Regions from separate parts of the Homo sapiens genome. Here regions 1 and 3 are each reported to be linked to region 2. The links are microRNA targets in miRTarBase. Many come from high-throughput screens and were not tested one by one. Region 2 holds a microRNA gene; each other region holds the end of a gene's coding sequence.

The links. The annotated mature microRNA hsa-miR-34b-3p reads CAAUCACUAACUCCACUGCCAU and lies in region 2 at 4,386-4,407, shown strand. An mRNA with a match to its seed (bases 2 to 7 or 8) in the 3' UTR can be bound and repressed. Matches are read on the target gene's strand: a 7mer-m8 pairs with bases 2 to 8, a 7mer-A1 pairs with bases 2 to 7 and ends in A, and an 8mer does both.
Region 1: the mRNA of SYNM is a reported target of hsa-miR-34b-3p. Seed matches in the 3' UTR shown: 7mer-m8 at 6,186-6,192.
Region 3: miRTarBase lists NXT2 as a target of hsa-miR-34b-3p. Seed matches in the 3' UTR shown: 7mer-m8 at 4,355-4,361.

What each region holds. Positions count from the first base shown.
Region 1 is chr15:99,130,059-99,141,054 of GRCh38, reverse strand. It overlaps SYNM (synemin), which reads right to left. Exons shown (of 4, transcript NM_145728.3): 4 at 5,462-10,996. The coding sequence ends at 7,997. TTC23 (tetratricopeptide repeat domain 23) reads left to right here. Exons shown (of 14, transcript NM_001288615.3): 13 at 1,656-1,738; 14 at 2,928-4,732. The coding sequence ends at 3,045. It overlaps TTC23-AS1 (TTC23 antisense RNA 1), which reads right to left and starts at 1,738. Exons shown (of 2, transcript NR_186223.1): 1 at 16-1,738. RefSeq lists an enhancer at 3,790-4,291.
Region 2 is chr11:111,508,602-111,519,597 of GRCh38, forward strand. MIR34B (microRNA 34b) reads left to right here and starts at 4,337; the gene lies at 4,337-4,420. It overlaps BTG4 (BTG anti-proliferation factor 4), which reads right to left and starts at 3,785. Exons shown (of 5, transcript NM_001367975.1): 1 at 3,580-3,785. HOATZ (HOATZ cilia and flagella associated protein) reads left to right here and starts at 6,177. Exons shown (of 6, transcript NM_001100388.2): 1 at 6,177-6,409; 2 at 6,910-6,951; 3 at 7,439-7,509. The coding sequence starts at 6,184. It overlaps MIR34BHG (MIR34B and MIR34C host gene), which reads left to right and starts at 2,001. Exons shown (of 2, transcript NR_147706.1): 1 at 2,001-2,271; 2 at 4,417-5,287. It also overlaps MIR34C. RefSeq lists an enhancer at 1,441-2,640.
Region 3 is chrX:109,539,502-109,550,497 of GRCh38, forward strand. NXT2 (nuclear transport factor 2 like export factor 2) reads left to right here. Exons shown (of 4, transcript NM_001242617.2): 3 at 1,974-2,118; 4 at 3,006-5,197. The coding sequence ends at 3,187. Among named protein-coding and RNA genes, the nearest start is that of NXT2, 8.2 kb to the left of the region's middle.

The DNA of each region.
Region 1 (10,996 bases), not on the chromosome of region 2:
TGAAATGGTACCTACCTCATTGAGGTTTTAGTTTGTATTTCTGGTTGTTAATGAGATTAAGCATGTTTATTTCATCAGATTTCAACTCTTTGAATAATCTGTTTATATCTTTTGAGTGTTATTCTATTGAGAGGTTTTGGTTTGGTTTGGTATTTCTCATTACCTTATAGGAATTCTTCATGTATTCTGAATGTTAAACCTTTCTCATTTCTGTGCACTGCAAGAATCTTTCCTCAGCGTGGCTTGTCTTTCTACTTTGCTTATGGTGAATTTTGGTGCACAAATATTTTAGGTTTTCACATAGTTACATTTTATCAGTCTTTCACTTTTGCTTTGTCTAGATCTTGTCTAAGAAATACTTCCCTACCTCAAGATCGTATTTTCCGGTCAGGCATGGTGGCTCACTCCTATAATCCCCGCACTTTGGGAGGCCAAGGCAGGTGGATCACCTGCAGTCAGGAGTTTGAGACCAGCCTGGCCAACATGGTGAAACCTCATCTCTACTAAAAATGCAAAAATTAGCTGAGTGTGGTGGCGGGCACCTGTAATCTCAGCTACTCGGGAGGCTGAGGCAGGAAAATCACATGAACCCAGGAGGTGGAGGTTGCAGTGAGCCAAAATCACCCCACTTGCACTCCAGTCTGGGCGACAGAGTGAGACTCCATCAAAAAATATATATATATATATTTTCCAGTATTTTCATCTAAAAGCTCCAAGTTTTGCATTTCACACTTAGTCCTTCAAATCTTTCTTGAGCTTAATATTTGTGTTTGATTTGGGGTAGTGATCCATTTTCTTCCATTTGGAAAACCAGCGGTCCCAGTACCCATTTATTGACTAGCCCACCTCTTCCTCACCAATCCCGCAAGGCCATTTCTGTCATCTGTCAAGGCTTGGGCTCTCTGCCCTGTTCCACTGGTCTTTTTGTCTACCCCGGGTGACAAACATGCTGTCTTAATTACTTTATTTAAAAAAATAAAAGGGTCTTTGGCATTCAGTAAAGCAAGTTCCTCCACCTCTCCACCTCATTCTTTCTCAAAATTATTTTGGCCATTTTGGGCACAACTTTAATCTTTCTCCTCTCCTTGATTTGCCCTAGCCTACTACAAGCAATCAAATGGCAAGACTTAAAGTAAGCAGAAGGGAGAAATCAAGCCAAAGCCAGCCCTGGGTAGTCCATAAGCTGAATATTTGGTTCCTAATAACTAAGACATTGCTGTGTAGTCAAGAGTATAGACAGCCTATATATTAATAAAAGTAGAGTATGTGTTTACAAAAAAAACAAAACTATTTTTTTAAATCTTTTCCAGGCTATAACAAGGGCCACATTTAAAAATAGAAACTGGAGCCCATCCTCTGGTCAGTACCAAGGTTCTTGCCTTTATTTTTAAAAATACTACTTTTAAATCTATTTTTTGCATACAGATAGTCACAGAGAGTTTTGTGAAATAGTGCTAAAACTGTTCACTTTTGCCTAGATCCCTCAGAACATCCAAACCAAAGGTCAGTCACTAGGAGACATCCCAGGAGCATGCTAATTCCATCACAGCAGGGCCTAAGAATGAGGTCATCTTTCTCTCATTCAAGGGAGACCTTAGTTTCCTGCTCTCAGCGACACTTCCATAGCCTCATGATAGCTGCTTGGTGTTCTACAGTGTCTCCAGATCCAGACCCTCTTATATGGACCGCAGGACAAAAGGACTCTGGCCACCCAGCAGGCCATGGGCATGCTGTCCACGTGAGTTGGCGTCCCTCACACTTTCTCTATCTCATTCCCTTTCCATTCAGAATCTCAAGAGAAAGCTGGTTCTAGAAGGTTCTGTGTAACCTTCTCTGGAATGTTTTGCTGACTTCCCATAACTTGCATAAAGGACAAGTTCCTTTGAAACCCGAGTTGTAAAAGATCTTCCTTGCCCAGGTATTTAAAAATAATTCATCCTTTAAGTCAGAAATATATGCTGGATGTTGTCTTCCTGCAGACCAGCCCCTGCAGGCTAAGGCACCTGCTGCAGGGGGAGGGCCCCGGGAATCCCTGTGGCCTCCTGCAGCCCTGCTTCCGGCTTCCCTCTGCCCTCGGATGCCCGTCAGGACTGGAGCCGGAAGGTTCACTGACTGACCTTAAAGGCTGGCCCCTACGTCCTTTCTCAGCCCGAGCAGAGGCCCAGCGCTCTGCCGTGGAGGGCCTACCTCACAGAGCCTGGTCCGCAGAGAGCAGCCCCAGGGCTGCCTGAGTCTGCTCAGGGAAACAGGGCCACAGCCCGGAGCAGACACAACCTGGCCAGCAGGGCGCCATCCCCTTTGAGGGCAGGGAAGGCGAGCCAGGGAGGCCTCCAGTGCAACCCTGACCATCCTCCTCACCCATGTCCTGCTCACCAAGCCAGCTAAGGGTTGAGGGCCTCAGCTCAGTGAGGATGGTCACAGGTGATTTTAAAAGATGGGAGGGGCCAGGCGAGGTGACTCATGCCTATAATCCCAGCACCTTGGGAGGCCGAGGCGGTGGATCACTTGAGGCCAGGAGTTTGAGACCAGACTGGCCAACATGGCAAAACTTCGTCTCTACTAAAAATACAAAAATTAGCTGGGCGTGGTGGCATGTGCCTGTAATCCTGGCTACTCGGGAGACTGAGGCATGAGAGTTGCTTGAACCTGGGAGGCGGAAGTTGCAGGGAGCCGAGATGGGGCCACTGCACTCCAGCCTGGGTGACAGAGTGAGACTCTGTCTGAAAAAAAAAAAATTAAAAAAATAAAAGATGGGAGGAAAACATCTCATGTTTTATGCTCTGTGCTACAATTCTCCTCTCATTTATAGCCCCTACCAAGTCTTCTCATAAATGGGTCTGGGCACCTGCTGGGCAGCAAAGGCTGGATGGGAACGGTGTGGGGGGCTGAGGGGCACCACACTCACCCCACCCTCTGCTTGTCTGCAGGGCCCCCAAGGTTGCTTCGAAGCCAAGGCAGGCATCAAAAGCCAAAGTGGCCTTCTGCACCAGCATCCCTCAGGACACCCTGCTGGGGAAGGCCCGGCCCGGCACAACAGCAGACTGAGGCCCCCACCCTGAAAAAGCCTAGGACATTCCTGGGCACTGTCATTTAGGGTGCTGTACAAATCACCTCCGCCTAGAAAATGGAATTCAACAGTCAGGATACAGATTTCCAAGGCCAACTGTTGGCCCCAACATGCAACAGTGAGACCATAAGCCTCCCGTGGGCCACATTTTGACAGTGGATGCCCTTCAGGGTGATATATGCTATAAAGCAGTTTTCTATCACCTAAGTGGTTTTTCTTGCCAACAAGAATTTTTACCCATCAGCACTACTGTGGCTGAAAAACTTCTCTTCAACAGTTCAGTGCGCCCTGTGCAGGAGTCAGCCCGGCATCTGCTTGTACACACAGCTCCTTGCATAGGTGTGGAGTTAGATCTGGACAGTGAACTTCAGGAAGTCCTTTCTTATAGGAGGCTAATAGGGATTGAGAATAACATGAGAAGAAAACGCTAATAAAGGGAAACCTGAACACGCTGCTGTCAGCATGTGTTTTCAAAGTGCAGCCTGCCTCAGAGTTCTTCGGAGCCTGAAAAGGGGTTTGAGAAAGAGCCCAGTAGGAGGGGCAGGAGGCCGACACACCTGACTTGGCCTGGGGCCCAGGAGGCAGGTGTAAGGGAGTGAAAAGAAAGGCTAGCCGGAGGCTGCGGGGGGAAGACCGCAGACTCCCTGCTGCTTCGCATCCCTCCTGTGGCCTCCACTGCAGGCAGGACAAACCTGGATGCCACCTGGAGCTGCTTCCTGAGTTGGCACACTATCGTGTACACAGCAGTCTTCAGCCCCCTGGAAGGAGGCCATAGTCGTGTGAGGATGGCAAAGTCGAACAGGAAGCTTTGAGTGCCTTCCTCCACGATGTCAACGAGGAGATCCAGTGCCAGATCGAGGTGGATGGAACACCCAGGGGTAGGGGTGCAGGTGTGGGCAGTGATGTCCCTTCCCCTCCCTCCCCTGGTCCCACAGACTGTGGCCATGAGGCTGCAGGCTGGTGCTATGACAGCAGATTGCAGCACAGGGCCCTCCCCTCCAGCCCCCAGTGGGACATCAAAACCACCCTGGGGCCATTTGTGCAGGGCACCACCTCCAGTATTGATGGGGAAAATAAACTCAGTAGAGCCACGACAGGGTGGAGAGAAGCAGGGACCATTGTCTTCCTCAGGAGCGTGACAGCTGACCCCACAGACCATGCTTGCTGGTACACACTGGTCCCAGACCCAGGCCTGTCGGACATCAGCAGTGTGCTAAAAACGTGTAAGATGTCACTACTCACCGTGTGTCCTATCTAGTTGACATGGGTGGAGTCAGCTAAGGGGTGAATGTTCATATGCTCCCAATTCACGTTGAAGCCCTAATCCCCAAAGGGATGGTATTGGGGGTGGGGTCTTGGAGAGGTGATTAGGTTATGAGGGTGGAGCCCTGATGAATGGGATTAGTGCTTTATAAGGAGAGACACCAGAGAGATGATCTCTCTCTCCACCATGTGAGGACACAGTGAGAAGACAGCCGTCTGCAGGCCCGGAAGAGAGCCCTCACCAGGAAATGAAACTGTTGGCACCTTGAGACTTCCCAGCTTCCAGAACTGTAAGAAATAAATGTTTGTTGTTTAAGCCTTTCAGGCTACGGCTTTCTGTTACAGCAGCCTGAACTGAGAGTCCATGCCGAGTTTTTGAAATAAATGTGAATTCTGATGTTACTTCTTCCTTTCTGTACTTCTTGAAGCGTAGCTTGGAATCACAAAAACTAAAACACATTTTTAAAATTTAGCGCCCCCACCCCACCCCACCCCAGGAAGCAATGAATTTAGGAATGTTCCCTCCAATGTCTCCCATCTGTTAATTCTGTTGACTTCAACGAGAGGAAGACTATAGCTACTTGTGTTTTTCTATTTTTGGTAAAGGGCTACAAGGTTACAAACGGGTAAAGATATCTAGCTATTCCTTTGTCTCAAACTACCTCAGTTTTTTCAAGCCCCTAAGAAATGGCCATGCCTTAGGGTTAACCCTCCAATTTGCACTTATAAGGTAACCAACTGTCCTGGTATGCCCAGGACAGTCCTGGTTTTAGCACTCAAAGTACCACATCCCAAGAAACCTCTCCATCCCAAATGGGATGGTTGGTGGTGTCCTACTGCCACTAGTCATTCAGGCTGTGATGATGACATTTTTACCACAAATTGTCCAGTGTATATTTGATTACAAGCCAATTGGCTTATGCTCTGTCTGCCAGGCTTTCTAGCTCTGTGCTCCCAATATTGAGTTCCGATTCAGGTGAGGAATTAGAGAACTGGAACTTTTCATATATATTCTGCCCAGTAATTCTCTGCTACCCTAAAAACATGCATGTAAACACACAGATTCTTTACTTAGAGTTTAAAGGAAACATCAAAATCTACTGAAAATATTCATTCTCTTTAGGAACAATGTGGGTTTTTTCCTCAGATTTTTATTTTTGCACATTCTTGTGACATTTCCCATTGTAGGGAACAGGAGTTTAGCAAAATCAGCTTCTTAGATGATGTCATTCTAAATATACATCTTAAACAAACAATATCAAAACCACCAGTAGGAAACTGAAAAACACTCAGTGAGTACTGTTTTGTCTCAGTAACAATAAATACAAAAAGACTGGTTGTGTTCCGGCCCCATCCAACCACGAAGTTGATTTCTCTTGTGTGCAGAGTGACTGATTTTAAAGGACATGGAGCTTGTCACAATGTCACAATGTCACAGTGTGAAGGGCACACTCACTCCCGCGTGATTCACATTTAGCAACCAACAATAGCTCATGAGTCCATACTTGTAAATACTTTTGGCAGAATACTTCTTGAAACTTGCAGATGATAATTAAGATCCAAGATATTTCCCAAAGTAAATAGAAGTGGGTCATAATATTAATTACCTGTTCACATCAGCTTCCATTTACAAGTCATGAGCCCAGACACTGACATCAAACTGAGCCCACTTAGACTCCTCACCACCAGTCTGTCCTGTCATCAGACAGGAGGCTGTCACCTTGACCAAATTCTCACCAGTCAATCATCTATCCAAAAACCATTACCTGTTACAGCTAAAACAAAATCAGCACATCTCTGTCTGTATTAGAAACGACAAAACCTTACAAAGCAGTCACCTCCATACCAGTCTGACAATCACTAGTTCATTTGGCAGATGGACAACAAAGGTTTAAACTTGCTATTCCAATCAACTTTCTTTCCCTATCTGATTCATGGTGTTTTTAAAATAGTATCTTGAAAGCTGTGCTGCATTTCTCCTCCACTTATCAATGAAGAAAACGTGCTCTCCAGAAACTACCTGCGGTAGCCACTCCCAGGACCTGGGGAGACGTGCACCCTGGGGGTCTGAGGGCCTCCAGGTGAATCTGAGAGGGAAGACCCTCCAGTGCTGTCGTTGTAGCCTGGCTGAGGGTGGTGCTAGCTCAGACTGTTATTCCCCAGTGCGCCACAGTCAGTGCGATGATGCTGTGTTACTGGAAATACAGCTGAGACAGCATTATGTGAAAGAAGCTAGCCTGAACTAAAAAAAATGCGCTGCTAGCGAAACTCTTTTTATATATGATGCTACACTTTACAGACAGAAACTTTAAAACAATACTGACGTGTAAAATAAAATGAATCCAATGAAGCATGCTCATCCCAGTATCTTAAACTCGGTGGTGCCTATCTACAGGTCCACACTCCGCGGCCCATGAGCATGGGGGCCTTTCTCGCCCCCCAGGCCCGTCCTGGGTATCTCGGTGCTGGGCTGCAGGAGAGATATCCAGTTCCTTCCCCAAAACATCCTTCTATTTAATAAACTGTTTCCCTGGACAAAACACCCCAACTGCAATGACTTCTGTTCAAAGTGCAAAAAAAGCTTCCGTGAGGTGGGTTCATGGTTGTTATTGTATTCATCTTTCACCCTTGAGCTCAGAAAGACCTGCATCCCATGAATGGAGGGTTGGGAAAGGCATCTTTAAGAGGCACAGTCCACTGTGTGCTTCCAATTTTCCTGTACACAGCCAGCTTGCCGGTCCAGCTGCAGTCTGAGTATCGGCATTCTCTTCATTGTCTTCAAGGTCTACCTCCCACCAGTGAAATTAAATGTTTGGGTGCTAAGGGATAAGGTGCAGAGAAGCGCAAGTCTGCACAGTCTGATAGGAACTGGCCACTCCAGAAAAGGGCATTCAGACTGTGTGCTACTTAATGACCTAGTGCCAAAAAATGAAATGGTACTGTAAGCGATTCCCAATAATCATCTACCCTACCAGTGCCAGGGAACCTGTGCAAATAGAATGTGAAATATCACAACAGACTACAGCTGTCCTCGCCATAAATACTATATTGTTTAAAGTTCTGTACATAGAAAGCAATTCATTCAAGTCTTAAGATGAATTTAGCTCTATATGGCAAGTAATTTTTTCCTAAAGATGAAATCATTTAGCAAGAATTTTTTTAACATAAACAGTCTGCCTATTTCCCATTTCTTTTTGAAAAGACTTTTTAGAGTCTAAATTGTATTTATTTTTCCCCTAAAATGTTAGTCTGTTATTTCATATTAGCACATGCAAGCAAAATTTACTCTTAAATATATTACTTTAATCTGGTTAATGTTTTGACATCTATAATTAATTGTAGTTTCAAACAGATGCAAGCCATGTCTGTGACCAGGTGCAAAACATAGAAATTCATCTCCAGAAGTGGAGAGAAGACTCCAGGGAAAAAAGTGTTTTGTAAAAGTCCCAACTCAAAAATAAAATTGCAGTGCCTTTTAAGGCATGAATTAACTGGAAACCTTTACGGATTAACTATAAAGGAAATTGACCATGCCGGGAGTACTCTTTAAAAAAGTAAAAAAGGGGAGATTTTCATAGACTCCCTCGGCCTCTTAAAATAAGTTAAGGCCTTTGGATGTTGGCACGTCGCCAACAGGCTGCCATTAAAACAAAATGTTTCTGCTTATTAAAACCAATGCCCATCATTCTCCTCCTCCTCATTGTCTAGATAGAGGAGGGCAACTTTCTTTTCATCTGAAATCACCGACCTTTGGTCTACCATTCTCTGGAGCTGCACCTTCTTATCAAACATGGCCTGCTCCTTGCCCTGTTCTCTGTGGGCCTGGTCTCCTTCCCCAGCAGAGGCCTTAAAGCTCACACCAACTGCCTGGTCATTCCTACTGTCCGCGTCTCTCCAGGAACCACGGTCAGACACACCGAGAGCTCCCGCTTCCTGTGTCCGGCTGCGGATCGCCTCTACGTTACTCACATCCATCTGAAAGGTAAACGAAGTTTCTTTGGGCCCTGGTGCAATGTGCCTTAGCGTTCTGCTGCTGTCTGCTAACTTGCCTAGCTCAGGGGAGTCCGCTGAACCAGCAAGCACAAATGTTCTGGACACGGGTCCACGGATGGCAATGTGTTCAGAGGTTTCCGTTTCTGTAGGACCTAGTCGAATGTGCCTAAAGGATCTGCTAACACCCGATGTCATTTCTGCCCCTGATGTGTCCTCTGCACTATCCTCCTGGGGAGATTCAGAAACGACACTTTGGAAGGTGCTCTTTTCAGTCATAACGGTTTGTCTACCCGAGGTATGACTGTGAGTGGCCTGGTGCACATCTGCTGAGCCCTCTCCGTGCACAGTGCTCTCTGAGTCACCAGATTCCCCCAGTTGGGGAACCAGCCCATGGTAAACTATCTGCTGGGTGGTCTGATGCCTCTGAGGCCCAATGCTGATGTGCCTGATGGATGTGCTGCTCCCTGGCAACCCTTCCATGTGTACAGAATCTCCTATGACACCCAACTCCACCTTGTCTGAAAGTGGAGCTGTGAACTGGATTTGCCCACTGAACCCTTCTTTAGGGCCTAACTGGAGTTGCCTGACAGAAGTCTGGGTACCCACTGACTCTTCTGTTGCAAAATAATCACCAACCTTCCCTGCAGCAGAAATGGGGCCCTGAAAAATAATCTCCTTTTCAGCATGAAATTGTCTGCAGCCAAATGTGCTGTGCCTCCCTGATCCGTCCATATCTGCAGAAGACTCTGCTGGGCCAGGTTCTGGCGAGCCCCATGCCTCTGGACAGGCAGGGGCAGGGCCTAGGAAGATGACTTCTCTGGACAGTGGACTTTGACCGGGACCCAGCGTGACATGCCTCACAGACCGGCTGGCTCCGGTCGGGCTCGCTGCCTGACTTAGGTCACCTCCCGCACTTACCTCCACCACTTCTGCAGTGGGTCCTTCATATGACATTCGCTCAGTCCTCCAGACTTCAGAGGGGCCGAGTTTTATGTGCCTTGCAGCCTGGCTCACATCCTCCAGCACCTGTGACTGGGCAAAGCCTGTGGGGCTGCTGACCTCCACAGTGGCCGACACTGGGCCCTGGGGAGTGCGCTGTCCCGAGCTGTGAGAGGCCCCACCAGCAACCTCGCTCTCGCCTGAAGGGATGTACAGCTCCCGGGTGGCCCAACGCCTAAAGCGAATGCCAGCAGCCGGGGCCTCCGCTCCACCTTCCTCATCTGGGCTGCCAGGCGCTGGGCTGCGTTGCCTGCTCAGGCTCTCCCGAACCACCGACTCCACAGCCTTCTCCATCTCACTGGCCTCATCTTTGCTCAGCTCCTCCAGGTCTAACCGATCGGCATCCACAGTTTGTGAGACGTTGACTTCAGCAACCAGGGTCACGGAACTGCCACCAGCACCCTGGACCTTCTTGACATCCACGGAAACGCTCCCCGGCCCACCCTGCCCCTCTCTGGTGAGGGCGGACAGCTCCTCCCTCATGCGCTCGGGAAGGGTTTCCTCCAGCTGCCCGATGACCTCCACCAGCTGCTGCCGGGGCTCCTTGGAGGAGATGCCCTTCATGGAGGTGTGGAATTCGTGGGGTATTTTAATTTCTTTTTCAATGACTGTGGGTTCGGCATGAAATTCACCGCTTCTAGCTTGTTCTTTCCAGTGAGTGGAACCCAGGTCCCCCTCCAGAGAGGGCGCTGGGACATCCAAGGGCTTCACAACCTTCTCGCCCACTGCACCGTCCTTCTGTGTCCTCCTTCGAGTCCCCTGCACGATTTCATCCTGCCAAGAGTACCTGATGGTGGATTCCTCCTCGATGTGGATCTGCCCGTACACCGAGCCGTCATCTCTGTCGTGCCCCCCGGGGTGTTCATCTGGAGTGGACACAAAATAACTCTGCTCGCCCTCTGAATCACCTGCCTCTGTCACTTCTTCCACGTGAGTCGTGTTCTCCTGAGGCTGCTTGGTCCTTCGATGCTGATTAACTGAGAATGTGACATCGCTTTCTCCATAACCTTCCTCCTCCTTAACCAACCCCCAGGGGCCTGGCGACACATCTTCGACCTCCTCCACTTTGAATGGGACGGAAAACTCCTCCGGCTTCTCCCCGCTGACATAACTCACGGGCTCCTCCACGATCTCCACGTTGACGACCTTTGCTCTCCCCTCCCTCCCTTTCAGGCCGAGGTTGATGATGTCTCCTATCATCTGCTCGGCTGACTTGCCTTTCAGCCCCACTTCCTTAATATCCTTGCTTAAAAGGTAGTCCAGGCCAGCTTCATCGGAAACATCAACATCCTCAGTCAGTTTAGACTCCACAACTATTTCAGTCTTTGTTTTCCTTTCCCCAGGAAGCTCTTTCCTGTCCACGTAAGTGACTTTTGTGTCTGGAAAAGAATCAGCAGATGCTTCTGTCTCTGGAGACTGAGTGAACTGCTTCAGGATACTGGTAACGATGTTTTCTGCTACGGTTTCTGTCATGGAATCGCCTTGCAGAGAACCAGTGGCATCACTGGTGCCCAACCTGAACCGTAGCTCTCTTGCTTCTGCCTCTCTACCGGTCCCACCACCAGCATCCTTCACAGGCGTCTGCAAACCTTTCGGGGACACCTCTGCTCTTCTGTCCTGGGATACTTCTAGACTAATCGGCACCTCTCTCTCTCGCACGCTCTTCTCCTTCGG
Region 2 (10,996 bases):
GGCTCATCTTTTCCATATAGCCTTCTCTGTGTCCTAACCTTTGATAATTTTCCTTTTCCTTTTTCCTAAATGTTGGCAATAATGAAGTTTGTATTAGTCATCAGGATTCCTGAAGCACTTTTTCATATAACCATCTTGATATTAAATAATTATATATAATATAAATAGAATATATAACACAAACATGAATTCTTAATCTATTACTATAAGTTATATTAAGATATATTCATATTACATACTAATATAATTAACATATTAATTATCTATATATACACACATTGTCCATCTCACCAACTAGACCACATAAATCCTTAGAGATTGTTCTCTAAAGATGGAAAATATGCAACCTGTTTGCTCCTACTGAAGCCATACCTAAGAGCTCCGGCAACTTTAATTATAGAGACTATTTTGTTAGACTGCTTATGATTTACCTGAAAGATAAATTAACATTTTATACTGAAAGCAACAGTATTGATTAATCAATAAATATAAACAAGAAGCTAATTAAGAATCTGGTGCACTCTTACTAATGAGAGTACAATGAAATGAAACTAGAAATATGGAATTATAAAAACCGCTGGCAGTTCATTTTAGCTCAAAAGAAAATCTTCTCCCATAAATAGATTCAATTATTTTTAGTTCTTCAAAGGCACTGAATTGACTTCAATTTAGTCTTGCTTCAACATATAAACTAGTTTCTAGGTATACTATCAAGAAGTTTAATAATCTGACATTTATTGATCTATAAACCAAGATATGGTTTTATATTTCCTATGAGTAAATATGCATTTAAAAAAACAGGTTTAGGCCAGGTGCAGTGGCTCACTCCTGTAATGCTAGCACTGTGAGAGGCCAAGGGGGGTGCGGTGGATCGCCTGAGGTCAGGAGTTCGAGACCAGCCTGGCCAACATAGTGAAACCCCATCTCTACTAAAAATACAAAAAATTAGCCAGGCATGGTGGTGGGCGCCTGTAATCCCAGCTACTCAGGAGTATGAGGCAAAAGAATCGCTTGAACCTAGGAGACAGAGGTTGCAGTGAGCCAAGATCACGTCACTGCACTCCAGCTTGGGCAATAAGAGCAAAACTCCATCTCAAAAAAAAACAAAAACAAAAACAAAAACAAAAACAAAACAGGTTTATAAAGAAGCTGCTAAAATCCAGTAATTTCTAATTAGTCTAATTCTTCATTTCTTCCTCTTCCAACAACATCCTTCAAAAGCTGTGGGAGATGGTGAGTTTGTATGTATTGAAGGGAGGGATATGTTGTCTCCAATTGTCTCCATCTTTTTTTTTCTTTTTTCTTTTTTCTTTTTTTTTTTTTTTTTTGAGATGGAGTCTTGCTCTGTCACCCAGGCTGGAGTGCAGTGGCACGATCTCGGCTCACTGCAACCTCTGCCTCCCGGGTTCAAGCTATTCTCCCACCTCAGCCTTCCAAGTAGCTGGAACTACAGGCGCGCACCACCACGCCCAGCTGATTTTTGTATTTTTAGTAGAGACAGGGTTTCACCATGTTGGCCAGGATGGTCTCTATCTCTTGACCTCGTGATCCGCCCGCCTTGACCTCCCAAAGTGCTGGGATTACAGGTGTGAGCCACAACCCCCGGCCTGTCTCCACCTTTTCTAATTCCCAATTCCCATCAATCTAGTCTTGTATCTAGAAGTGGTAAATTAAGTCAATATAAATGTGCCAAAGCTAAAGCAGAAGGTATTTGTTTTCTACACTCTTCTTGGCTTCCTCCTAGTCATCAACCTTGTCTCTCCTGATAGCTCCTTTTCCATCTCCCTAATCACCAAAAGCCCAGAAATTAAAACAGTAAACAATTCCCCTGAAAGGTGCCTTCCTTGTACTGTCTAAAACAAATGCAATCCTCTGTGTGGGCATTTAAAACACCACAAGCATTCTTACTTAGATTAAATCATGGGTCTCCCTGGTCTCCAGGCATGCCTAGACATGAACCATAAAGGGAATGAGATCCTTGGAGTTTCTCTAGTAACTGCAGGCCAAATCAACAGCAACCCTAAGAACAAGCATTCTTTTTTTTTTTTCAACAGAACTAGGCCACACATATTTTTTGTCGTTATTTAAATTTTTAGTTGTACTACATAGAAAATAAACTCATTTTAAAAAGTTATTTCAGTAGGCAATGCATCTTCATGACTTTTACATATGAGTTTTATTTTTTATTACTTTTGAAGAAAAGTCTGTAGAAACCTACTTTTCAAGGCATCTGACCCAACCATTGCCTTGGATGGCAGCAATCCAGCTCAGGTAAGATATTTAAGATGCAACTAATAATCATAAAACATCAGTTGGGAAGAAGTGTTCGATATAGTATTGGGTAAAAGTGACTAACAATTTGGTAGAAGAGAATCATTTTTATAACTATCTCCTAACCAAGATTTCTCTAAGTCTGCATATTGTTAATGGAATGAAGACTATTTTGCTCCTAGTTTCATGTATGTATATTTAGGTGAATGTGAGTCATTTATGTAATGTGTGCTAAAACACCGTGCCCCTCACAAAGATAAGATGAATACAAAATACAGTTATTGTAGATGGCTTGTCTTTCACAATTTAATTCTACGAGTTAATTTTTACAATTAACATTTTCTGTGCTACATATTTTGTATTTTGGTTTCTTTCCCTTCACTATGGGGTGTACAGAACAAAGTATGCATTTGGAAAAAAAGTGCTGTCTTTCATATGCAAAGAAAATGCTATAACTTATTCAAACATCCTTGGGCAGTTCTTTAGTTGTTTTAATAGTGTGAGTTTGTAGTTTGTATTGAATGATCCAGATGACCTGCCCCTGTTCATGTTACTTGTGGCATCTATGAGACCATTTGCTGGTTTTAGGGAATCAATCTATAGGTGGGAAGTTTTCTTTTGCAGAAACTAATTTAGAACTAAGCCTTTGGTGTCAGCAATGGGTGCTCTATACTGGATGCATGAAGACCATATTTCTAGGGGAGGCTGCTTCCAGCTGAATTTCACAAGGTGAGGATAAAGAGAACATTCCTTATCCTCTCCTGATTAATTCATTAAAGGCAAAGGAGGGGAAGGAAAGTTATTAGCAGAGATCTCCCAGAAGTCCTCTGTAACTGTCCCTTTTGCCCAACTGTCACAAGATACTGTTTTTCTGGCATCCACAGCCCTAACCCTGAATATCCAAATGTACTCGTGCATCAAGGATCTACTCAAGTCTCACCTCCTCTGGGAACCTTCTTTGACCTATTACAGCTCTCATTGAGGACCTCCCTTCTATTTCTGATACAAATAGTTTCTACTATTCTAAATAGTCCCTAGTTTAGTAATTTATTATATATATACTGTCTTGAATGGTATGGCCTTGATCTCAAGAGGACCACGATTTGATGTAACTAACAAGCTGCCTGGCTCACTATTTGACTAGAAGGCCCAGGCTTCACATCACTGCATGGCCCTCTAAGAGTATAAGGCCAAGTCCCCAACAGAGCACAGAGGTGCAGATGAGACTCTCCAAGCCATCCTCCCATATGTCAGAGGCTACCCAAGCCCACCTCCATTTGGAAAATTCAAACCTATAATTTGAGGTACCTGGGAAGCCGCTTTCCCAGGGCGGAATGGTCACGGAAACTGGGTAGGCTGGGGGCCTTCTTGGGGAATGAGGGAGTGGAGGAGCTCTTTGTCCCTCCTGCTAGATCAGAAAGAGAAACGTCTCAAGAATCTGGGCCTCCATCTTCTAGGCGTCTCCCTTGGAGGCCCTTCAGGGACCGCCCACAGCGCTTTCTCTCAGCCTCCTCCCCCCCCCCATCCCCTCCCCCACCCGCCCCGTCTCGCGCCCGCCCCGCCCCTCGGCCCGCGGGGTTCCAAGGACGGTTGGTCGCCCCCGCCACAGTCACTCGGCCGCTCAGAGCGGCGGGGCGCACGGGGTCGAGAGAGCCAGCTCTAGGGTTTGGGGCTGGGAACTGAAGCCTGGCGTGAAGGAAGTGGGAGCCCGGGCCGAGGAGGCGAAGGGGAAAGGAAAAGCGAGGGGAACCTGAGCGGGAGGGCCCTGAGAGGAGCGGGAGGCTGCGGGAAGGGGAGGCCTGGCACTCCTGGGGGTCATGGGGGTCGGGGCGCGGCTCCCGGCCTGGGAGGGCGCGGGTCCTCCCCGGCAGCGCCGCCCGCTGGCCCAGCTACGCGTGTTGTGCGCTGCGAGGCCGGCGGGGGTCCCGCTGGGCCCGGGGGTGTCCTCGGGGGCCGCTTGCGCCCAGCCATGGTAGGGCGTCCCCCGGTGAAATGGGGTCCGAGGCGGGCCCCGACCCCGCGTCGGCGCTGCGGACCGTCCGGGAGCTGCAGCCGCGGGTGCCCGGTGCTCGGTTTGTAGGCAGTGTCATTAGCTGATTGTACTGTGGTGGTTACAATCACTAACTCCACTGCCATCAAAACAAGGCACAGCATCACCGCCGCCCGGCCGGGAAGAAGACGCCGGCTCGGGCAGCCCGCAGCCTTCGAGAGAAGATGCCTGAGAAGCGCGGCGTCGGCGTGGGTCCTGCGCAGCCTGCCCCGCGAGCGCCCGCTGCAAGTGCGAGGAAACCCGCGGTTTCTCCAGATACAGTTAAACTGTTAGCTCTCTCTAGGAGTCACAGAAGATGAAACAGTCTCATGCCAGGAAAGCAAAATCCCTGGAGGTGAAGCCCCTCCATCCATGTAACGGTTAATACTGTATGCTGTGATTCACTGTGTCTATTTGCCATCGTCTAGTAGAGTATTCACCAAGCTAGCAACTCAGTTGAGCTCCAACTCAACCAATGAATTGCCTGCCTGTCACAACGTGTTGGGGTACCAACTTGAGACTGCAATTTTTTCTATGAGTCTAGTTACTAGGCAGTGTAGTTAGCTGATTGCTAATAGTACCAATCACTAACCACACGGCCAGGTAAAAAGATTTGGGAATTCGTCCAAATGAGCTGCCTGTGCATCATCAATGTGCGTGGGGAAGAGGGGTGTTGGAAAATGCTGATTTCATCCATTGCCTATTAATTGCTCAGCCAAAAGAAAAAAATCAACATTTCAGCTACTAAGTTTACAATGTATGTAATGTGTATGTATGTGGGGTTTTGTTTTGTTTTTTTTTCAATATTCCTTCAGGCTCTTAACCAAAATTTTAGATATAAGGGGGAATATGATTTTTTTCTTAGCTGACTGATGTATGTTATTATATGAACATGTGATTATTAACTTCTTGAGACTATATTGTTAGTAATATTTTGAAAGTAATATTGTTAGTAATATTTCGAAAGAATAAAGTGCCATAAAGACATAAATTGTGGTTATTGCTATGTGTCCATTTCCTTTGCTAAATTGACTTTATGATGTCCATCTCAGTTCCTGCCACAGTAATCTTAACTTTTCTATCAATGAAGTGGTTAAGTTGTTCCTGCCATGACAAAAATCTCCCGGGAAAGCTACTCATACACACAGACTTGTTAATACTTTTATAAGAAATACATTAACAAAATTTTTCATACTTCTTTTTTCCATGAAGAGACTCTGTTCACTCATTAAGATGTATCCCTTCTTTTAAGTAATCATTTACAACTGTTGGAGTCTATGCAACTTTTAGTGGGAGTGATTAGTAAATGCACTTACACTTTAAATCCAGCTTGTTTCCTAAGATTTAAAGGATTCAGAATTTTAAAATCACAGAAACTGTACACATGGGCACGTATCCGCCCAGTTCAGGCCTCTAGCTCCCAAGGGCTAGGCTTTCAGGCGTGAATTCTCCAGCGCAACGTTCTCAGAACTTCCACCTAGCAGGTGCTGTCCCTGGCAATCTGGTTTGGAAGTGGGGATTGGGGCAATGGGGCTGAGGAATTTAAAGTTTATTTAGCTATCTTTCTGGGGGGAGGGGAGAGGATGTGGCAGCCCACTGAGGATATAAGAAGCTAAACTACTCCCCCACTGACTCCGACAGGACACAACCCAAAGTTGACGTTTTGACTCTCCCATATCCAAGATTTGGACTGGTCCTAAAACCTGATCACCGCAGGGGTGGGCTTCCGACGGCCCCCACGCGCGTGGCGGATCCCAACACCTACCTAGGAAACCGAGGGCAGCCGGCAGGGGCTGGTACCAACTTGGCGGTTCTCGGAGGGGCGGGGCAGGGGCGGGGCGGGGGGAGGGGAGAGGACGCTTGCAGAAGCGTCCTCAGTTGCCATGGAAACGGGACCCAGCGAAGAACCTAGCGGCCGAAAAGAGTCCCAGGAAATGTGCCCCCCGGGATTACTGGTATTTGCTGGCTCCTCGGAACAAGATGCCAACTTGGCTAAGCAGTTCTGGATCTCGGCGTCGATGTATCCCCCTAGCGAATCTCAGCTGGTGCTGCGCAGAGACAGCAGTCAGCGTCTGCCGGTGGCGCGGCCCAGGAGGAGCAGAGGGTCTGGTGAGTAGAATAGCGGCCTCCTGTCAGTCATATCTGCCTCACCGTAACTGGCCTGCAGGTACCAGAGCCCTTTCCAGGAGAAACTGCAATGGTATATACAAATAGTTATAAGTACATACAAATGCATGTATAAATATTTCCTGAACCCTTCCAGCAACCCTTCCACCCGAAAAGGATCAGTGGTATATATGTTACATCTAAAAACATATAAGTTTCCCTTAAATTATGGCATCTATTTGGTAAACAGTATAGAATAATCTGAGGAAATGCTATGTGTTGGCTGAAAGGATAGTTTACATAGTTTAATTCAAACATGAAAAGCCCTGGAGAAAGATGAAGGTGGAGTCAACATTACCAATGAACTTCCTGGACCTGTGAGCCCTTAGTGAGGCCTAGGATGTGGAAACTGTTATGCAATTGTTATAGTATAAAAAATTCAAACGCCTTTAATGTTGTTGACTTTTCCAATGATTTCTTTACTTCCCTTTTGTATTTTTTAGAAAACAGCCACTCCTCGCAGTCTTTTCACCTTGCGAGTAACAGTAAGTACCAAGTTTTATGCCTTTCAACATTCTGACTCCTAGGTTCATCAGAAAATAGACAATAAGTACAAGGGTACTACTTTACACTGTGGTATAACTTTCTGAATTGAACACCTAAGTCCCTGCTCAGGGACCACCCTGTTTATCCAGAGGACAATGCCTAAATTCCTTTAACAGTTTGAACAGGAATGTAGAAATTGGAATCTCTGATCCTGCAGATATGCTCTCTTTCGAGACTTTTTCTTGTCTCTGGACTCGAGCTTACTCATCATCTAAAGAGATTAGAGGTTCCCTGCAGCCATAGCTAATTAACTCAGTCTCCAGTTGTTTGCAAATCTGGTTTGTAAAGTTCCAATACACCACATGTATTTTTGTTTACCTTCCTACTCTATGTATTCCCTTTCAACCCATGTCCAATTTTATATCAATTTTAGTATAAAATCATAATAAAATTATTTCAGATTGAATTTGACTTTATTCCCTCTAGAAAATAGAGACATCTTTGCCGAAGCCCTAAAGATACAGGAATCTGAGGAGAAAGTAAAGTATCTCCAAAAGGTAGGCCAATATTTCAGAAGGTCATCTGATCATCATTAAATTTCTAAATAATCTTGATTTTTTAAACACATGTATATTTAAAAATCTGCTACTTCTAGTGCATCAGCTTGAGCAAATTAAGGAAACCTTTATTAGAATTTTAATTGAAAATTTAAAAATTCTATTCAACATTGGCTATTATCAATCTCAGCAAAAGTCCAAGAATGTATAGGAACAACAGAACCAGAGAGAAATAGAAAGAGGTAGAGTCACACACTTTCCATCCAGTAAGGTCCCCAACCATATACAGTGTTCTAAGAACAGAAATAGCATAAGAGGCCAGGTGCAGTAGTACACACCTACAATCCCAATGCTTTGGGAGACCTAGGCAGGAGGATCCCTTGAGGCCAGGAATTCAAGACCAGCCTGGGCTACATAGTAAGACCTCTAACTCTACAAAAAAAAAAAAAATTTTTAATTTGCCAGGCCTGCTGGTGCATACCTGTAGTCTGAGCTACTTGGGAGGCTGAGGCAGAAGGATCCTCTGAGTCCAGAAATTCAAGGCTGCAATGAGCTATGATCTCACCACTGCACTTCAGCCTGGGCAGCAGAGTGAGACACAGTCTTAAAAAAAAATCATAAGAACAGGAAAAATCAAATAGAATTAATTGTCTTAATAGGTCAAAATTAAATGATCAGAGGAATGAGTCTGTCATCTAGACCTGTTTTGACTAAAGGCTGGAATTAAACACATTGGTGTAGTCAAATCAGCTGAGCACAGTTCTCTTTCTGGCAACATCCTTTGTTTGCTTTTCATGATACAGGCATGGCCTTTAACTCAGCAATTAATACAGTGATTTATAGAAACATTTAGTTTGATTAATGTATAAATTATACTCCTGTAACTGTTCCTATACTGTAAAAGCAAAAATAGAGGATTCATTTTGGCTGAATATCTTTAATCATTGGACATATTGGCAAACTCTGACAGACTTATCGGGAATTCTACATAAATTACAAAACAATGCATTTGAGTTTGTTTATCACATTAATTCACTTTGTGGACTACTGGTGCTTCCCTCAAACAAATTAGGTAATTAGAAATAGCCAGCATTTTATTCTCTCTTTAGAATATTATGTACTGTATATTTATATCCAGACTTTTTAGGGAGGGGGAAAGCCTAATTTTCAGTGAATTAAAAATCATTAAAAGTCAACTTCAGTGCTTTCGGAATTTAATTTTCATTTTATTTCATTTTAGGAAAGGATTAGAAATAAAAGGTTAAAGACAAACTATTATAAATTTCTATCAGCTTTTGTCAAACAATAAGACAATATGATGTGAATTACCAGTGGAGGTTATGCTGATAGACTGTTAGGCTAATAATCTTAGAACTGGATTCCTTGTCTTGGCTCCTTCTATGAACTCATCTTAATTACTAAATTCCACAGATATTTATTGAGAACCTGCAAGTACTATACTAGCTGCTGGGGATCCAAAGATAAGATGTGATCCCTTATCTCAAGGAGTTTACAATCCAGTGGAGGAGACAGCCAATTAAAGTCAATAATTATTATATATTATAATATCATGATAGATATATGCACATAATACTATGAGAACACATTGAGGGACATCAAAATCAAGTGTAACAAATCAAGAAAGCTTCCCAAAGGTGCTGGGTTTTAAAGGATTTATAGTTTGTTAGACAAAGAATATGCAAAGCAATCCCTCACAATGTATTAGTTGTCTTCCTAAAATCCAAATATGATTATACTAGCCCTCCTGCTTTTTTTTTCCCCATGGCTGCCCATTTCCTTTACAAGATCAAGGCCAAACTCCTTAGCATGTTTGAATTCCTTTCCAATCCAGTCCTAACCTGTCTTCTCCTATCACTCTCCCCGCTTTCTCCTATGCTCTCTCCCCAACTCTGTATAGTTGGATCTCAACCATGCAGGCCAAGGAACACTATTTACACCTTCACATATATGCTTGCAAAGTGATGAACAGGAAAAGTATATTTTTGTTATACCTAAACATGCATAGTATCTGCCAAGTTGTTCATTAAGCCTAGTGGTCCTGCACTGCAATATAGAAGATGATTCCATTTGTTGACAGTAGAAGACAAGAGGCCTAACAAAACAGTAAGGCAGTGGGAAAGAAAGAGAAGTTACTGAAACTGTGCCTTCTTAGTATATGGGGAAACTTAGCACTATCTAGTACAATTCAATTTGAACAATGCCAAAATACAAAAGGGCAACCAAAAGAATCCTGAAATAACTGAATTGTCTTATAGATATAGTGAGATAACATAATTTAGTGTTCATAACAACCAATTATTGAATGTATATTAGGTACTGTACACTAAACTAAGCAATTGACATACATCAACTCATATACTCCTTAAAATAGCCCATTATGATTATCACCATTTGGCCAAACAAGGCCTAAAATGATTTTCCAAAGTCCCCACAACTGGTAAGTGGCAGAGCAGATTCAAAGCCTGCAATCCTAACTCCAAAGTCCATGAAATTAATCCCATAATAGATTTGTTGTATCATAATGATTGCTGACTATGGCATTGTTCAAGTATGCTGCCAAATATTCTAAAATTCAAAACTATGGTATGAATACAAATGTGAGAAGCACTATTTCCAGCTCTGGAACTATAAGCTGGTTCTCCATTCTGCAGTGCACTTTCATGTATCTGCCTGAAATGCTCTTCCCCATTTACCTTCAAGGCCTAACTCAAATGCCAGCTTCTGTGAAGCCTTCTCAGGGGTTACCCAGAGACTAGCAGAATGAATAGATCTCTTCTCTGTGCTCCCACGGCAAGCCACATATCCTTTCTCATAGTATTTGTACAGTCTCTGATGTGTATTGTAGGTAATTGTGTATGTTTCTCTCTTTCCTGCTAGATTACAGGCACCATAGTGTAGTAGATTTTGGAGACAACAAGATGGGTTTGGAAGCCTAACTCTGCCACTTACTATTTGTGTGACCTTGAGCAAGTGGTTTAACTCCTGGGATGCTCAGCTTCCTCATATATAAAAAGAGAAATGATTTTTTTTAATATCCTCCTCATAGAGTGATGTAAGGTATGTGAAGTGCCTGGCCACAGTTTACCCTCAACAAATTCACTCTATAAAGGCAGGGGTCATGTTTTATTTGCTTAACCTAGTGCCTTTTTGGTTATTAAACTCAGTAAATCTTTGTTTATTGAATAAATAAATGCATAATTAAATGAATTAAAGAGTAAATGAAGGCCCTATATATTGATATTTCAATTTTGTTTAGCTTTTCCACATAGACTCATCTGGCAAATTTTTCTAGGCTGATAATCTTTACTAGAATACTCCCAAAATCTAATCTGTTAGCACATCACCTCTCCCTAGTTCTGCTTTATCTCATGGGTTATGGATATAATGGGAGGAAACGTAACTCCCTGTAATTATTGAAACAGAATCTGGTTTTGGATACCACTTTTTTTCCTAAATCGATAATGTT
Region 3 (10,996 bases), not on the chromosome of region 2:
CATTCCTATTTCTCCACATCCTCTCCAGCATCTGTTGTTTCCTGACTTTTTAATGATTGCCATTCTGACTGGCGTGAGATGGTATCTCATTGTGGTTTTGATTTGCACTTCTCTAATGACCAGTGATGATGAGGATTTTTTCATATGTTTGCTGGCCACTTCTTCTTTTGAGAAGTGTCTGTTCATATCCTTTGCCCACTTTTTGATGGGGTTGTTTTTTCTTGTAAATTTGTTTAAGTTCCTGTAGATTTGGAAATTAATAGATTGCAAAAATTTTTTCCCATTCTGTAGGCTGCCTGTTCACTCTGATGATAGTTTCTTTTGCTGTGCAGAAGCTGTTTAGTTTAATTAGATCCCATTTGTCAATTTTGGTTTTTATTGCCATTGCTTTTGGTGTTTTAGTCATGAACTCTTTGCCCATGCCTGTGTCCTGAATGATATTGCCTAGGTTTATGGTTTTGGGTGTTACGTTTAAGTGTTTAATCCATCTTGAGTTAATTTTTGTATAAAGTGTAAGGAAGGGGTCCAGTTTCAGTTTTCTGCATATGACTAGCCAGTTTTCCCAGCACCATTTATTAAATAGGGAATCCTTTCCCCATTGCTTGTTTTTGTCAGGTGAAAACCAATTTTTTAAGGCAAAAGATAAAAGAAGTTTCTTGTACTGATATTTGATGTCAGGGAAAAGGGTTGTGACAATGGATGTTTATTGTGCCTTGCCTTGAATGTGTATTGTACCTTACTGCTTTCAAAAAATAAAGTAGAAAAAAAAAGACAACATTGTTTATTACCAGTGTCAATATATGTGTTGACCTTTTTTTTTATTTTTATTTATTTATTTTTTTTTGAGATGGTGTCTCACTCTGTCACCCAGGTTGGAGTGCAGTGGCGCGATCTTGGCTAACTGCAACCTCTGCCTCCCGGGTTCAAGCGATTCTCCTGCCTCAGCCTCCCAAGTAGCTGGGATTACAGGCAACTGCCACCACGCCCGGCTAATTTTTGTAGTTTTAGTAGAGATGGGGTTTCACCATCTTGACCAGGCTGGTCTTGAACTCCTTACCTCATGATCCACCCGCCTCAGCCTCCCAAAGTGCTGGTATTATAGGCGTGAGCCACCATGCCTGCCTGGCCTTTTAACCCAAGTTACATTATAGAATTAAGCTAATAGTGTGTCTTGTGACCCCAGAGTTTTAACTGTGGAATTTCTGCCTCATTTGGGCCTTAACTTATTTGACTTATCGAAGTCTCTGCTTTAGCAAGTACTCATGATTCTTTTGAACTAAGTACACTAATAGAGTAGTACTATAGCCGAGCATGGTATGACATGCCTGTAACCCCAGCTACTTGGGAGGCTGAGGCAAGAGGATTTCTTGACCCCAAGAGTTTGAGACCAGCCTGAGGCAACAGAGCAGGACCCTGTCTCAATTTTTTTAAAAAACAGAATAATTTTTAAGAAAACATAAACCTCTTCTCTAAAAAGTGGGAGTAGTGAACTAATTCTTTCTAACACATGCAAATATTAAATGTTTCATATATATATATAGCCACTAGCATTAAAGGGTACAGGTAGGGCTTGATCAAAAACTTTGTTAATTCTCATAATTACAAAAGGAAGACACACTAAAACTGGCTTGGGGCTGCATTTGCTTGGAATTTGTGATCATTTAATTCATTTGAATACAGAAAGCAGAACTTAATTGGGTGGAAGGTTTTATTGTGTCTAAAGTGAAATATGAAAAAATATATTTTACTGCCTAGTTTATAAAGAGTAAGGTGATATTTATTTAAGGCCAAGATTATAAGACAGACGTTTTGTTCACATGGGTTTCCAGTGGAGATGGAGCAAGGGGAGTGGAGATGAAGGTAGAACTACAAAAAATGTTTATATACCATCTGTAATATTTTAATCCATTTCTATAAAATGTTTATCTAGAAACAGAATTATTTCCCTTTTTTAAATTTGTCTTTCTTTTTAGGCACTAACCAGGCTGTATCTGGACAAGGCCACCTTAATATGGAATGGAAATGCTGTTTCAGGGCTGGATGCCCTAAATAATTTTTTTGACACATTGCCTTCTAGTGAGTTCCAGGTCAATATGTTAGATTGCCAACCAGTTCATGGTAAGATCATGATCTTTCAAGATGCTTCCTTTGTTTTCCTCTAGTAAGCACTGAGCTTTTACACCAAAAGCAGCGAGAAACTTTTAGTGGTAGAACTATTTACTTACTTGAGCAAGTTAAATATTATGAAAAATGTAACTGTCCAGTCAAACTTTGGTCTTCCTTCAGATTCTTTCCACTAGTAGCTTTTGATGGATTATGTGATTTTGGCTTATTAAAAGTTGTATGAAAAGTTGAGATTAATGTGATTTTTGTAAATGGCAGGGAAAGATTATCTGATTTCTCTAAATAGTTGCCTGCTGGACCCTGAAATGTCTCCAGAGTAAAATTATACCATATCTCTGATTAATGTGTTCAGTATCTTACAATCTACTAATATTTCACAGAAATTTACTCTGTTATGTGAAAGGATGACTTTTTACAAGAAAATTTGATTCCAGGTAGATTGATACAGTTTAATAAAACCTCTAGGTGGGGTCCTAAGTGTCTTAAATTGTAGTTCAGGGTGATTTTTTTCCTTTATAATTCCTGAAAAGAACAATAGTTTAAGAAGCAAAGCATGAATAAGCTCTGTTAGAAACCTGAAATATTAATTCTGAAATATTTATATATATATGAAGCAAATGGTCCTATGCTAGATATAAGCTCCTCATTTTGAAACTAGAGTATCCCAAAGTTTTCTGGACTGAAAATAATTTTAATATCTTTTACTAAGTACTTAGTTTTCTGGGTTTGAGTATGCATGCTTAAGATTATGCTCAAGGGACAGAAAGTGTATGAAAAAAATTTTAAGCATTAGTCCATAAACAATGTATTTTAAGCCTGAAAATCTGCTTATTTAGAGATAGAAAATGATGTGTTCTCTTTTTTTTTTAATGTGGATGAAGAGCAAGCAACTCAGTCCCAAACTACAGTTCTTGTTGTGACCAGTGGAACTGTGAAGTTTGATGGAAACAAACAACATTTCTTCAACCAGAACTTCCTGCTGACTGCTCAGTCCACTCCCAACAATACTGTGTGGAAGATTGCAAGTGATTGCTTCCGTTTTCAAGATTGGTCTAGTAGTTAAAGGGGCAAAAGTCCATTCTCATTTGGTCCATTAGTTCCAGCAATTGAAATTTATGTGAATTATTTTGATTGTAGAAGCACTATAATATGTGCTGAAACTAAATTTCTTTAATATTTTCTATTCCTGTCAGCACCTTTTCTAGCAGCTGCCAGTTTGGAGCATTGCCCTCTAAGAGCTTTAAAACTATTTTTTTACATGCCTTATATACATTCCACTAATGACATTCTTATAATAATATTAAACACATGATCTTGGTACTAACATACTCACTGTGAACCCAGCCTATTGCAAAAATAAAATCTTTTTATAATATTATCTATGGGATGTCAGCACAATATAACACTCTGGGAAGAAGTGGAGTTTTTTGGTTATTAGGTTAATTTTCTAGTAAAACACGTTGCCTGTTTTCAGTTAACACTGGTAATGCCATTTTAATATATGGCTTTTTCAAATCAGTTCAGTGAAAATAGTACAGATTTAGGTTTACATAACTACTCTGACATACTGGAATTGCATATAGAGATGTTCAGTGGTCGTTTTTCATTTTAAGTAATTTTTGTTTTGGCATTTTTTTGTGTGAAGTAAATTAATCAACTAGAGAGGTGCAAAACGTTCTCAGTTGATATCTGAGTATTGGGTGCATTTGGTGGCTTAAAAGCAAAGCTTCCTAAAAAGATTTTTCTTGGCAGCTCCAGGTCTATACATTTAGGTAATGAATGGTAGTAGAACTAATAGCTTTAACAGGAGAATAGGGAATGAGAAATAGAAATCCAAGGCTGAAGCCAAAAGTAAGGAGGGTGGCCAAATGGTAAACTATTGGTACTTGTTTTCTACCTCCTAAAAATGTAGCTTATTTTTAGGATTTAAATCACTAAGTAAATAAGTATCCTTGCCAAGTGATCATGAGTGTCATTTTTGTTCTAAGACTAATATTTTTAGATCTTTTTACTTCACCTCATACTTATCACCAATGTATATCTCCATTTATTCAATAACTTACTGGGGTAAAATAACAGCAATAAACCTAACCTTTTAACAGGGTCTAACATGAGAGTTGGAGTCAAAGCCATTGTTATCTTTTGGTGACACCCTTAAATTTTAAGTCTTCCAGTCTTCCATGTGAACTTTAGGCCCAAAGTTTCTTATGTATCACACATCCCCCAAATAAGTGATTTTTTCCCAGTGCTTTGTACTGTCAACTGCATTATCTTTAATTATTTAAAGGTAGAATTATTTAATTTTGTGATTTGTTCTTCCATATGACATTGAGCAAATAGATCTGTTTCAAAATATGTTCCCGCTATGTGGATAACTCTTCTTTTTAAAAAGAAAATAGAGAATAGCAAATCTTCATGATAATCCTCAAAAGAACAAAATGCTTAACTTTATCTCTTAATTTCTAAAGGTAAATAACCTAGGTTCAGCTTTTGCTTAAACATTAAATATCTTTTCCATTTTTTAATGTTTGTAAGCTAGATATGCCAGCTTTGTTTCTACATTGCAACCAAAAACTGTTTCTTTTCACTTAATTATAAAACCAGTAATTCATTTACTCTTGCCCAAAACTATACACTGTATTTCTGTTATAGTAACAAAATAGAGTTATGTAGAATTGTATGGAACTCAAATTTAAACCATGCTTTCTTGTAGTACTGATTGAAACTTACACGTTTTATTCTACTCATAGTGAGCTTATTCTTATTTTGGATTGATTTTCCAAAACCACAGCTTCAGCAGCAACAATCAGAATGTCCAAATGCTGTCCTTTCCCTTACAGAGAAGAACAATGGTAACTAAAAGCTGCATATAACTAGCAATAACTACATTGAACGGTGTGCATTGTTCATGATTGTTGTGTTTTAAGACTTGTATATAAACTGCTTTTTCCAAACTCTGTATAACTTTTAAATGGCTGGAACTACTCGTATAAGGACTAGACTGTATTTTTGACATGCTCCTATTTTTGTAACTTGAAAAAATAAAATTTTGCCTTGTGACAGATTTTCTCAAGATTGTTTTAAGGTCTTTTGATTTTTGTTCTTAGGTTTCAGAATGGTTACTTGTTTCTTTACAATATAAGGTTTTTTAAATTTAGAAAAAAATTACAGTAGTGTGTTGACAACAATGGTTAACAACTTGGATCTTCTTTTGGTTCTTTCTGTAACCTGCCACATCTGTCTCCTTTTCCTGCCAATTATTCACATTCCTGAGATCATCACTTGTTTGAGATACCTGTAGGTTTTTGGTGAGAAGTTGGAAATCTTAACCTTGAGAAACCAGCTAAAATGCTATATTCGATAGGCAGTGAAACCAAAATACAGTTGATTTCCAGAAAGAATGGTTCATTAAATTTAATTCTACATTAAAAATATGTCAACACTACTGGGTAAATAACGAAATGAAGGCAGAAATAAAGATGTTCTTTGAAACCAATGAGAACAAAGACACAACATACCAGAATCTCTGGGACACATTTGAAGCAGTGTGTAGAGGGAAATTTATAGCACTAAATGCCCACAAGAGAAAGCAGAAAAGATCGAAAATCGACACCCTAACATCACAATTAAAAAAACTAGAGAAGCAAGAGCAAACACATTCAAAAGCTAGCAGAAGGCAAGAAATAACTAACATCAGAGCAGAACTGAAGGAGATAGAGACACACACACACAAAAAAAAACCCTTCAAAAAATCAATGAATCCAGGAGCTGGTTTTTTGAAAAGATCAACAAAATAGATAGAGTACTAGTAAGACTAATAAAGAAGAAACCCCTGTGGGAGGCAATTAATTCAAAGAGAACTACAAACCACTGCTCAACGAAATAAAAGAGGACACAAACAAATGGAAGAACATTCCATGCTCATGGATAGGAAGAATCAATATTGTGAAAATGGCCATACTGCCCAAGGTAATTTATAGATTCAATGCCATCCCCATCAAGCTACCAAGAACTTTCTTCACAGAATTGGAAAACACTGCTTTAAAGTTCATATGGAGCTAAAAAAAGAGCCTGCATTGCCAAGACAATCCTAAGCAAAAAGAATAAAGCTGGAGGCATCATGCTACCTGACTTCAAACTATACTACAAGGCTACAGTAACCAAAACAGCATGGTACTGGTACCAAAACAGAGACATAGACCAATGGAACAGAATAGAGCCCTCAGAAATAATAACACACATCTACAACCATCTGATCTTTGACAAACCTGACAAAAACAAGAAATGGGGAAAGGATTCCCTACTGGTGCTGGGAAAACTGACTAGCCATATGTAGAAAGCTGAAACTGGATCCCTTCCTTACACTTTATACAAAAATTAATTCAAGATGGATTAAAGGCTTAAATGTTAGACCTAAAACCATAAAAACCCTAGAAGAAAACCTAGGCAGTATCATTCAGGACATAGGCATGGGCAAGGACTTCATGACTAAAACACCAAAAGCAGTGGCAACAAAAGCCAAAATACACAAATGGAATCTAATTAAACTAAAGAGCTTCTGCACAGTAAAAGAAACTACCATCAGAGTGAACAGGCAACCTACAGAATGGGAGAAAATTTTTGCAATCTACCCATCTGACAAAGGGCTAATATCCAGAATCGACAAAGGGCTAATATCCAGAATCTACAAAGAACTTAAACAAAATTACAAGAAAAAAATCCACCCATCAAAAAGTGGGCAAATGATATGAACAGACACTTCTTAAGACATTTATGCAGCCAACAGACACATGAAAAAATGCTCATCATCACTGGCCATCAGAGAAATGCAAATCAAAACCACAATGAGATACCATCTCACACCAGTTAGAATGGCGATCATTAAAAAGTCAGGAAACAACAGGTGCTGGAGAGGATGTGGAGAAATAGGAACGCTTTTACACTGTTGGTGGGATTGTAAACTAGTTCAACCATTGTGGAAGACAGTGTGGCGATTCCTCAAGGATCTAGAACCAGAAATACCATTTGACCCAGCCATCCCATTACTGGGTATATATCCAAAAGATTATAAATCATGCTGGTGTAAAGACACATGCACACATGTTTATTGTGGCACTATTCACAATAGCAAAGACTTGGAACAAACCCAAATGTCCATCAATGATAGACTGGATTAAGAAAATGTGGCACATATACAGCATGGACTAATATGCAGCCATAAAAAAGGATGAGTTCATGTCCTTTCTGGGGACATGGATGAAGCTGGAAACCATCATTCTGAGCAAGCTATGGCAAGGACAGAAAACCAAACACCGCATGTTTTCACTTACAGGTGGGAATTGAACAATGAGAACACATGGACACAGGGTGGGGAACATCACACACCGGGGCCTGTTGTGGGGTGGGGGGAGTGGGGAGGGATGGCATTAGGAGAAATACCTAATGTAAAGGATGAGTTGATGGGTGCAGCACACCAACATGGCACATGTATACATATGTAACAAACCTGCATGTTCTGCACATGTACCCTAAAACTTAAAGTATAATAAAAAAAGAAAATTAAAAAAATATATATGTCAGCAGACTTTTTTGGAGGGGAATGAGAAGAAGCAACAGCCAGCCAGGCATGGTGGCTTACGCCTGTAATCTTAACACTTTCTGAGGCTGAAGTGGGCAGATCACTTGAGCCCAGGAATTCGAGACCAGCCTGGGCAAAATAGCAAGACCACTGTCTCTACAAAAGTAAGTTAGCAGGGCAAAATGGCATATGCCCAGCTACTCAGGAAGCTAAGTTGGGAGCATCGCTTGAGCCCAGGAGCTCAAGGCTGCAATGAGCCATAACTGCACAACTGCACTCCAGCATGGGCAACAGCAAGACCTCATCTCTAATTTTAAAGCACAGTAATAGCTCTTAAAATTAAATATCATATTTTATCTCTTCAAAGATGCATGTATTTTTCACATTTTAACATCTCTGGAATTGGTACAGATCTTAAATTGATGCCATATTATAGTTGTGTCTCATTTCCCCTTTCTCAGTGGTAAAGTAATGGTGAGTCTTATAAACAATGGCATCTTAGGAGTTTTGCCTAGATAAAAATGGCTAGGAATCTACTTAGGTCTAAATTTGTAGGCGTTAGTGGAAGTAAAAGGCTGTAAGCTTACAAGACTAATAATTCATGACTCAAACAAATTCTGTCACCATGCCATTTGTATTTCTTGAGTAGCCCATATGGCTGTAAGAGCCACAGATTCCTCAGTGAATTTGAGTCATGGTAACATTTTCATACTTTTTGGAAATCACCTAGTAATGTATAGTGTATCTATAAAGATAGCCCCAGTAAGGTTCAAGGATAAGCACAGTGTTTGGAAAAGGAGCAGGAAGTCAAAAGCCAAGAAGGTACTGTGAATTCTTTTCTGAAATTTTGATGAATTCACTATTTGCCTGAAATTGGGCAGGAAATTTGGTAGAAGGGGATTCCATTTACTGATTTTTGTTATAAGCCTGTGTTGTCCTTCCTGTCCTATGTGTGCTTTAACATAACCACACATATTTAGGGGAAAATGGTAAGGCATTTTTGGCTTTTTGATTTTGTAGTTGGCTCTGTATAATAAAAGTATTTCATCGAAACACTTTTTTCCAAACTGCTGTATTCTATTAATAAATGCTTACCTTTTGCCAAATGCAGCTTTCTTTACAAAAGAGTTCTCAGTGACTCTCAGTCAGCTATGTAGGTCAGTCTAGCTTTCTAGGGAAGCAGTAAAAGGTAGAAAAATGTATTGTTGGAATAATGTGTCAGATGGAGGGGTCTTAGGACACAACATAAATCTGGGATTGTGGTATATGCATTCTTTAGAGAGAGAGCTTTCAAAATTTTCACTATGACCCACAGTGAGAAGTATATTTTACATCACAACCCGGTATACAGATGCACAAGTAAACCTATATATGTGGGTGTATGTGTGTGTGTGTGTGTGTGTGTGTGTGTGTGTATAATGTCCAAAATAAAACTCACGTTTACCACTTGCAGTGTGGTCCTTGCATTTTCTATTTCATTCTATTATTTTTTTTAAATGCTGGTCATAAGTTGCTCAACTGATTTTTTTACAACTTCCTAACGGGTTGTACCATCAGTTTGAAAAACACAAAAATAGATCAAGCATATTTTCACTATCACTTTTGAGTAGGGGTATAGGGCTGGCTTCCAATAGGTAGTGCCATATATCAATGATGTCACCCTGACTTAGAAGTGACCAAAAACTTCTTTCTCTTCTCAGGTTTTTCATATTTGTTGAGGGCCATGAAGGGCAGCAGTGTTTGCCTCCCGTTCTTTGGTTTGCACGAGAAGTTCAGAGCTAAGAAAGCAAATGTTTACATAGTCTTTAGGCAGAGTCTGGGAATAGAATGAGCGGCAATGAAAAGGAGTTGAAATGGAAGGAACTGTGCTATTTCAGGTGTCCAAGGAAAGAAGTGAGAAGGCTTTCTAGCAGGACCACTTTTGAACATGATCTGATATTATGTAAGCTGTATTTTGATAAATTTTAAATTTCATGTGTTTTTTTCCTTTTCCTCCCTCCTTGAACACCCCAAACATCTACATATCAACTCCCCTTGTTTGACAAAGGCTGTGGTGGTCTCTAAGGTGTAATCCTGGTCCCAGACCCAAAGAAGACCTGTGTTCTAAGGCTGTTCTGCCCCTAATGTGTTTTGTGACTTTGCACAATTCACTTACTCTGGGCCTCTCTCTTCAGCTATTGAATGGAAATACTATTTGTCCTATCTGGCCCACCAAGTGGTTGTGAGAATCAAATAAGGCAACAAACGAAAATATTTAAGTGCCACGTGCTACACAAATACAATGGTTATAGTTTTTGGCTTGATGATTGGTTTCCTCCCTTCCAAAAATTCTGGTTTTCTTTAAGGGTAAAATCAATTGAGAGTGACTGTTTCCCGCAGCCAGACACTCATTCTAAACCTTGCCCCTGACTTTACCAGGTAGTTGTTAAACCAGCTCCGCAAAAAAAGTCTAAGATTAGATTTATAGAGATGGTTATTTTACTGTTAAAAAAAAAAAAAAGGATTCAGGGCCCTAAAGGAAACGATAGTAATTTTGCAAATGTATTTTCAAGTAGTCTTTCTGTAACTAGAAAAACAAAATTGACTGTAACATTATTCATTCCAATTCTCTTGCTCAACGGCAAGAAATTGGCAGTAGATGCCTGCAACACTTAACCAAGCCCAGGTACCACGGTCTGACTTGGAAACCTGAGCTGCCTGAGGTAGCCAATAAGCACTTTGTTTTCCTGACTCTTTTTTTTTTTTGAGAGGGGTCTCGCTCTGTCACCCAGGCTGGAGTGCAGTGGCCTGATCTCAGCTCACTGCAAGGTCCACCTCCCAGGTTCGCACCATTCTCCTGCCTCAGCCTCCCGAGTAGCTGGGTCTACAGGCGCCCGCCACTGCGCCCGGCTAATTTTTTGTATTTTTAGTAGAGACAGCGTTTCACCGTGTTAGCCAGGATGGTCTTGATCTACTGACCTCGTGATCTGCCCGCCTCGGCCTCCCAAAGTGCTGGGATTACAGGTGTGAGCCACCGGGCCCGGCCGTTTTCCTGACTCTTTTTTGTTGTTTCTGAAAGAGCCTCTGGAAATGATTTTTCTAAGGTACTAATCCGTCCATCTGTGGCATCCAGGATTCCCAATGGTCTGGGCTCAATCTCAGACCTAATAATTCACTGGCTTTGGATGTTGCTGAGGAGAAAAGACAAGCCTGGGAGAAGGGATGGAAGGAGTAATTAGCTGGGGGAAGGTGAGGGAGAATGGTAGGTAGGGACAGTTGGGAAGATACTGCTTTCCAAACAACTGAAAATAAAAG